2 separate regions of the Homo sapiens genome follow, and region 2 is linked to region 1. Evidence: fine-mapped expression QTL. A gene starts in region 1. The other region holds a variant in brackets. All regions are shown on one strand. Distances are from middle to middle.

Region 1 (4,383 bases):
AGAGTATTCAAATAGGAAAAGAGGGAGTCAAATTGTCTCTGTTTGCAGATGACATGACTGTATATTTAGAAAACCCCATCATCTCAGCCCAAAATCTCCACAAGCTGATAAGCAACTTCAGCAAAGTCTCAGGATACAAAATCAATGTGCAAAAATCACAAACATTCCTATACACCAATAATAGACAAACAGAGAGTGAAATTATAAGTGAACTCCCATTCACAATTGCTACAAAGAGAATAAAATACCTAGGAATACAACTTACAAGGGATGTGAAGGACCTCTTCAAGGAGAACTACAAACCACTGTTCAAGGAAATAAGAGAGGATACAAATAAATGGAAAAACATTCCATGCTCATGGATAGGAAGAATCAATGTTGTGAAAATGGCCATACTGCCCAAAGTAATTTATAGATTCAGTGATATCCCCCATCAAGCTATCATTGACTTTCTTCACAGAATTGGAAAAAACTACTTTAAAGTTCATAGGGAACCAAAAAAGAGCCTGCATAGCCAAGACAATCCTAAGCAAAAAGAACAAAGCTGGAGGCATCATGCTATCTGACTTCAAACCATACTACAAGCCTACAGTAACCAAAACAGCATGGTACTGGTACCAAAACAGATATATAGACCAATGGAACAGAACAGAAGCCCAGAAATAACACCACACATCAACAACCACCTGATCTTTGACAAACCTGACTAAAACAACCAATGGGGAAAGGATTCCCTATTTAATAAATGGTGTTGGGAAAACTGGCTAGCCATTTGCAGAAAACTGAAACTGGACCCCTTCCTTACACCTTATACAAAAATTAACTCAACATGGATTAAGGACTTAAGACCTAAAACCATAAAAACCCTAGAAGAAAACCTAGGCAGTACCATTCAGGACATAGGCATGGGCAAAGACTTCATGACTAAAACACCAAAAGGAATAGCAACAAAAGCCAAAATTGATAAATGGGACCTAATTAAACTAATGAACTTCCACACAGCAAAAGAAACTGTCATCAGAGTGAACAGGCAACCTACAGAATGGGAGAAAATTTTTGCAATATATCCATTTGACAAAGAGCTAATGTCGAGAATCTACAAGGAACTTAAACAATTGACAAGAAAAAAACAACCCCATCAAAAATTGGGTGAAGGATATGAACAGACACTAAAAAGAAGACATTTATGCAGCCAAGAAACATATGAAAAAACGCTCATCATCACTGGTCATTAGAGAAATGCAAATCAAAACCACAATGAGGTACCATCTCATGCCAGTTAGAATGGTGATCGTTAAAAAGTCAGGAAGCAACAGATGCTGGAGAGGATGTGGAGAAATAGGAACGCTTTTACACTGTTGGTGGGAGTGTAAATTAGTTCAACCATTGTGGAAGACAGTGTGGTGATTCCTCAAGGATCTAGAACCAGAAATACCATTTGACCCAGCAATTTCATTACTGGGTATATACTCAAAAATCATTCTACTATAAAGACACATGCACACGTATGTTTACTGCAGCACTAGTCACAATAGCAAAGACTTGGAACCAACCCAAATGCCCATCAATGGTAGACTGGATAAAGAAAATGTGGCACATATACACCATGGAATACTATGCAGCCATAAAAAAGATGAGTTCATGTCCTTTGCAGGGACATGGATGAAGCTGGAAACCATCATTCTCAGCAAACTAACACAAGAACAGAAAACCAAACACCGCATGTTCTCATTCATAGGTGGGAGTTGAACAATGAGAACACATGGACACAGGGAGGGGAACATCACACACCAAGGACTATCTGGGGATCCGGGGCCAGGGGAGGGATAGCATTTGGAGAAATACCTAATGTAGATGATGGGTTGATGGGTGCAGCAAACCACCATGGCACGTGTATACCTATGTAACAAACCTGCATGTTCTGCACATGTACCCCAGAACTTAAGTAATTAAAAGAAAAAGGAAAATCAAGTGATTTTGCTTTTGAAAATTCCTGCTAATGTTTTTCATGCAACATCTCTTTCGTGTGTGGCTCAGGGGTAGAACATTGCATCAGGATTTGCTCATGGGTCTCATGTCTCTTCCTCCTCCCCCAGCAAATGACGGCTGCTCGGAAACTTTTATAAAGGAAGCGGTTGCTTTGTGGCTGATAGATCTGAAGGTGAAGAGCTTCTGGCCAAAATGATTCAGCAGCAAAACACTCCCCTCCCCAGCACCACGCAGGCAGCCCCCTAGCCCCGCCCCTGCCCCATCCCACAGTGGTTTGCAGGGTGGGGTTCCATGCTGTGGCCCTGGCACCTGCCCCTGGGCTGGGACAGCCCACTGTTCCATGCTGCCCAAGAAGGCTCAGCACAGGCACAAACCATTGCCCGGCACTGGCCCGTGCTGCCTGAGAAGGATTGGCACGGGCACAGACCACTGCCCCCACCTGCCCTGCGCCATCTACCCAAGAAGGCTCGGCACGGGCACCAACCACTGCCTCCAACTGCCCCATGCTGCCTGAGAAGGCACTGCACGGCCACCCCCAACTGCCCCGCACTGTCCCTACCCGGGCAGCCATGCGAGCGGCTGGAACTCTGCTGGCCTTCTGCTGCCTGGTCTTGAGCACCACTGGGGGCCCTTCCCCAGGTAAGTGGCGTTCTCCCCTGTCCGCTCCCCGGGGGTCTCTCCCTGAGATTGGCCACTGGTGCCTTGGGTCTTCCCCAGGGCACTTTCCTAGCTTGGAGCCCCCACAGGACCATGCGGTGGTGAGAGGTGCTGGGAGTGGTGAGAGGGGCAAGGGGCTCCATCTGGCTGCAGCTACCTTTGGGGGTAGCAGGCTACAGGGATGAAGGGTTTGGGGGCTGCCCCAGAAGGCTAGGGGCAAGGGAAGCATCTTCTATTCTCTGGCTCTTCACAGAGGTCTGAGAAAGGTCTAAGTAAGGCAGGTCTCCCGCAGCTCCTCTGCGGGACGGAGGCGACAGGGCAGCCACATGCCTGTGGTTAGCCGCTTCTATCTGATGGCTTGTCATTCCTTCCTGCTGGCTGTTGTCCTGTGACTTGGCTCCAGGGACCCTAACGATCAGACTCTTTCACCCTTCCTGAAATCCACTCCCTGAGGGTCAGCACTCAGGGGGAGGGGGGACAGGGAGGAAAGAGCCACTGCCTGTGCACTGGGAAACTGAGACACAGCCAGGCTAGGTGATTTGCCCAAGTCACACAGCCAGGGACAACCTGCTCTCCCCCAAAGGGAACTGGGCCATGGCCTCCCTGGCACAGGAATCAGACCAGGATACTGATGGGGACTTGGGAGGCCCCCACCTCATTTAACCAACCAGGAAGCTGGCACCAGAGGGCTGAGGTGACCCGCTCAAGTCATATGACCCCCACCCAGCAGACAGGGACAGAAGGGGGCTGGAGCCTGGCCAAAGGGGCCCAGGTGGGGGCTGTGCAGCAGGACCACTGACAAGAGGATGGCTCCAGAGCACCCAAGGGGTTCTTGGAGGGTTCTCACCTCCTCCTGGTGAGTCAGGATACTGAGGACTCAGTGATGCTGGGGGACACTGTGTCGAGCTCCCAGGCCTGGCCTAGGGCGGACGCTGCGACTGAGCAGCCAAGGGGACACGGCAGGCTGGAGGAGGGGCCGGGGGCAGCTTCTGCTCTCACTGATGGGAACATGCCACCGCCACCAGCTCTGGGTAGTGCTCAGCGAACATGGAGCTGACCCATGGCTGGCAGAAGGCTGGGGACAGCATACCCGGCCCTGCCTCCCAGCTTGGGAGCCTTCTTAGCTCACGCAAGGAGCCCTCCACCTGCTTCCCAGCCTCACAGGGGCCTCTCCTCCTGGCCCTGTCCTGATGCAGTGCTGCCTGCCTGCTGCCATTCTGTGCCCTGCCCCTTCGTGTCTCCAAGGTCCAAGGGGGAAGCAGGGAAGAGAGGCAAGTTCACTCCAGAGAAGTGGCTCGTTCTCACACCTCAGAAAAGGCTCTCCTGGAGGGGACATGGAGCCAGCTGTCCTAGCGTGTCCTGGGATCTAATTAAACCTACTGACTGCTGAGGGGTTTCAGAGCTCTGCTCATCTCACGGAGCAGGCTAGGGACTATAACAGGGTGGCGTGGGAGCCGATGTGCTGGGCAGCTGGCAACGTCATTTTCCTGGGTGGTGTTCCCGGCCCCTCGCTGGTATGTAATGCTGCACCAAGCCTTTCCCTCCATTCTCAGCAGACCTGCTGTCAGCCACCAAACCCCAGAGAGAAGCTCCAGAGCCCACGTTCACACACACAGAGCGGGCCCTCAGCCTCAGTCCTACCATCCATGAAATGGGAAGATAACTGCACCCCGTCTCCGGCCCTGGGGAGGCTGAACAGAGGTGGCTCGGGGAAGGCACAGGCATGGAGGCACATGG
Region 2 (4,383 bases), 38 kb before region 1:
GGCACCTCCACCCAACAGAACTCAACCCCTCAGCCATGAAAGACCTCAGTCTTGTGCCTCAGGGCAGTGACTACCTGCCAGGGACCTCCTGGCTCCAGGGTGCTGGAGTTTATGACCTGGGTTTGGGGAATGATGTGTACAAATGTGTATTTCAAATGAAATTCTCATTATTTCTTCCCATTTTCTCCACGGCCTCCTCCTCAGACCGCCGTCCATGCTCTGACCTTTCCCCACATCACCTCACCTCTGACATCTTTGTCTTTATTGGGCTTCCCCAAAGCATACTGGGAGAAAGGGCTTGCTGTGGGCAGTTTACTGGGAGGACTACTCCAGGCAACAGGACAAGGGTGGGTGGCAAGGCCCGGAAAGGGGCTCACTATTGCCCACAGCTCAGCCACTGTCTCACCCATCCCGCTGGGAGTTCTGACACTGTGGAAGGTGCCCCTCGGGGGCCCCCCATAGGCAGGCAGTGTTCACCCACTGACCCTGTCCCTCCCTGGTTGGGGCTGGCTGCCTCCCAGCCCTCCTGGTTCTGTGGGCGGGGATGCAATGGGCAGGTAACCCCAGGAGGAGCCACACACTGCTGACATCCGATCCCCTTGACAGCCCCGAGACACAAAATGGAAAAGCTTAATTCCTGCTCCTTCCCCAGGGGGGCTGGCCAGCTGTGGACCCCAGCCCAGTAAACTTCAGGGGTCAGCAGTGATGTGCCCACATGGGGCCTGGGGTGAGCCCCTTGCCTCACTTCTGTAGGGCAACATCCCTGATCCGCACCCCACCACTTACAAGCGATGGTCTGGACCCGAGCATGAGTCTTCACAGGCCACGTCTATGCATGCCTTTGATGGCCAAGGTCTTGTTTCCAAGTTCAGCCCTTTTGTTTCTGATGCAGTAAGTTCTCACTGCAACCTTGGGTGCCCCCCCGTAGAAAAGTGACCATCATCATTTCTGATGGAGAGGAATTGCCCTCTAGCCAGAACACATAAAGCAACTTAATCCACCCCATGGCAGAGCATAGCACCAGCCTCCGTCCTGGCAGCCCAGGAGCATCGAAGTAAATTGGACACCAGGGGAGGCTGTGGGCTGCAGAAGGTAATAAAACATATTGACACCGGCAAGAGTTAATTAAAGATTTTATAAGAGTTCACTCAAGGAAGGCCTTTGAGTTCAAGCCAAACCCCAAAGCATGGAGAAATTAATGAAATCCACACTCATCCCTGCCTGGACATCTTCATCAGTAACAATAAGCACCTACAATTATCACAGGTTCACTCTTTCCTTAATTACTTAATTTGCAAGAGCAGAGGGTGAAATTCAGCATTCCCCAGCCTGCATAAAGAGGTAAAAGTACTGTCCAGGCACGCATTTGTCTTTTAATACAACATTTTAGCTTTGGACAGTGAGGAAATAAATTGGGCAAAGATGGGTTGCTGGGTGCCAGGGTTCATCCAGTTCTAATGGTGACACCACTCTCTGGGGACTTGGCCAGGACCCCAGCCCCAGGTGCTCAGCAGAGCTAGTGACACGTGGGAATGGAGAGAGTCACAGAGGGTACTCTATGGCCTGGCCAGCCCCTGAGAAGACCCCACCTGAGAGGGAGCCATGCACCAAATGCAAGCAACCTGCTCCAGGGAGGCACCTGCCCCTGGCTGGCAGCCAGAGTGCCTGAGGCCACCTGCAGAGGGGCTGGTATGGCTGCCTCGAGAGTAAGACAGGCATCCTCAGGCAGGACGCCCAGGACTCTGGCTACCACTCTAGACCTTCTGGCTTTTTTAGGGACAATTGATTCCCCAGGAAACTGTGTAAGCTTAGACCAGCAATTCTCCAGGTGGGGCCCTGGGTGGGCAGCACCAGCCTCCCCTGGGAGCTGGTGAGAGAAGCTGGAGAGTCCCCTGCATAAGAAGACCTGGGCATGGGCCCAGCCCTGTGCTCTCCATCTCTTGAACAGAGATCAAGCAGGCATTGGGACGGGGGGGTCCTGGGAATTTAACATTCACTGTAGTGCAGTTTACTTTGAAAAGTGCCAAAACAATAATCAAATTCATGCATGGATAAATGGATAGATACAGGATAAATGAAGAAAGAGTTCACTGTGAAATCTAGCGTGTGGGCATGTGAGTGTTCACTGAACAATTCATCCAGCTTTCCTGGAAAAGTTTAAAAACCTTTATAATAAAATGTTGCAGGAAGAAATCAAATGAAGAACTGAGTGAGATCCCTTCCAATCC[C/T]GGATCGCGGTTCTCCCACATCAGGTGGTAACTGACACCAACACCAACCACATGGAATAATCTGCAAATCTAAGCCAGCTGAACACACCTAGGGCAGAGCCCCCTGGAGACTAACCACGGTCACCAAGGATGGGTCAAGGGCGAGAGAAGAGGGGAAATCAACCCTAAACTCATCCACACAAAGGGGGGTTTGCTCAATAAAGACCAATGCAGAAATTGCAACCTGGAAATTTACACAAGAGCTACAGAAGTTAATGATAGAACAAAAGCCGGTGAAATACATTTATCCTCAGTTCCATGTCAGCACTGGGCAGATGAGTGACACCCGGGAGCTACAGATGCCTGCGGGGAAGATCCACGGGAGCTTAATTACACAGTCATAATGGGTCATCAGAGCAGAAGGGGATTGAGGCAGAAACGCCATCTCCATAAATTTACATCAGCACTCATGCTGGGAGAAACAGGAGGGAGGTCCTGGAGAGAAAGTGAGTGAGGCGGGGCAGGAGCCTCAGCTGGGTAGCCTGCCTGTGAACCCCGTGGAGACACCATGCACAAGGTTCTACCTGGGTGCATGGGAGCCTGTGAAATGCTCATTCCTGGGCTCCACACTCTGATCTACAGAATGAAACCAGAAATAAAATTCTGAGTCCCCTAACCGACTGCTGGACCCCTCCTCTCAGCCAAGGACATTCCAACATAAACCTGAACATCTAATTCTGGCCATGATGGGAAGGTGGGGGCCGGACAGACCTCATTATTTCCTCCTCTCATTTGAATCCAGGCACAGCTGACCAGCATTGACATCAAAATAGGGCAAGACCCTGTAGCAATGAGACACCAAATTCCAACCTAACTCTAGTATAGCCCCACATGACAGGCAGCAGGCCCTGAAAGAAACCGAAGTATTTTACACTAAAATATCTTTTTTTGACATGTTTTGAAATGTCCCTGCAAAGCTGTCTCTTGTGGGGAGAATCCACATTCTGTAGAGAATCCCCTTCCTTTCCAGGTCTCTTCCATGATCCAGGAGAGAATTAACTAAGGGCCTGGCACCCGTTCAGGTCTGATAAGAGCTCTGAAGCCGCTACCTGGAGGCTTCATCTGCGTGATAAATCCTGCTCTCCACAATCCCCCATCTTAACCCATACATTCCCTTCTATTGATTCCAGGTCTTTGGATAATAACTCTTTCAGCCAGTTGCCGATCCACCTATGACCTGGAAGCCTCCTCCTCTTTGAGTTGCCCTGCCTTTCTGGACTGAACCAATGTACACCTTCCATGTATTGATTGATGTCTTATGTCTCCCTAAAACTCAAAAACAAGCTGCAGCCCGATCACCCTGGGGATCTCCTGGGGCTGTGTCATGGGCCCTTGGTCCTTATATGTGGCACAGAATAAATTTATTCAAATATTTTATGGAGTTTTTCATGGAGAAGAATGAGGGGTCCTTGAGGAACATTGGCTGCGTGTTCCCAGGTTTGCTGGCTGTTCTGATGAGCAGCACTGGAAGAGCCAGAAAGCCCCAGGGACCCCACCCACACCCCAGTGCCTCTCTGGGCTCCAACCCGCTGACCCAGGGGCCACCGCCAGCACCATCTCTGCCTGCTCTTGCATGCGGGAGGCACAGTCCAGGGCTGCTGCCCTCCACCTTGAGCTTAGCAGCCACCTCCCCTCCTGTGGCCAGCATGAGGCTCCCAGGGAGCCTGAGCCCCAGTGTCCATGGCCACAGCTGCCTTAGCCCTCCCTGTTCAGATGGCTCATGACCCTGCCCGGCCCATAGCCTGCCCTCCCGCCATGTGCCCTGGCACAGAAACAGACAAAGACCATCCAAAGGAGCCTAGGGGCTCAAGGCATGCAGCAGTGGGAGGCAGCACCACCAGGCGGGACCTGCATGCAGGCAGGGGTGGGAAAGCCTCATAGAGGAAAGAGGGGGCTTCAGAGGTGCCCCAGTGAGGGTGGCTATTGGGCAAGCAGGAAGGGCTGCTAGAAGTGGGGTAGCCCCTGTGACTGGTCAGCGGAGCATGTCTGGCTTTCTTCTCTGGCTGATCCTCAGTTGAAGAAGGATGAGGGAAACTGGCAGTTACTGGCCAAGCCTGTGGGCAGTAGTGGTCTGGCTTCCTGGGCTGGTGCTACAGGCTACGGGTCCGAGTTCTCC

What was found. PIP is the estimated chance that this variant, and not a neighbour inherited with it, causes the effect. A credible set is the group of variants that fine-mapping cannot tell apart.
Region 2: its variant is the best candidate, but not a certain one, in a credible set for the expression of CST7 in skeletal muscle (GTEx, PIP 0.79).

Annotation. Positions count from the first base shown.
Region 1 is chr20:24,946,948-24,951,330 of GRCh38, forward strand. CST7 (cystatin F) reads left to right here and starts at 2,322. Exons shown (of 4, transcript NM_003650.4): 1 at 2,322-2,628. The coding sequence starts at 2,559. RefSeq lists an enhancer at 1,988-2,037.
Region 2 is chr20:24,909,031-24,913,413 of GRCh38, forward strand. No RefSeq gene overlaps it. Among named protein-coding and RNA genes, the nearest start is that of LINC02967, 7.3 kb to the right of the region's middle. The variant C/T (reference allele first, on the strand shown) is at 2,229.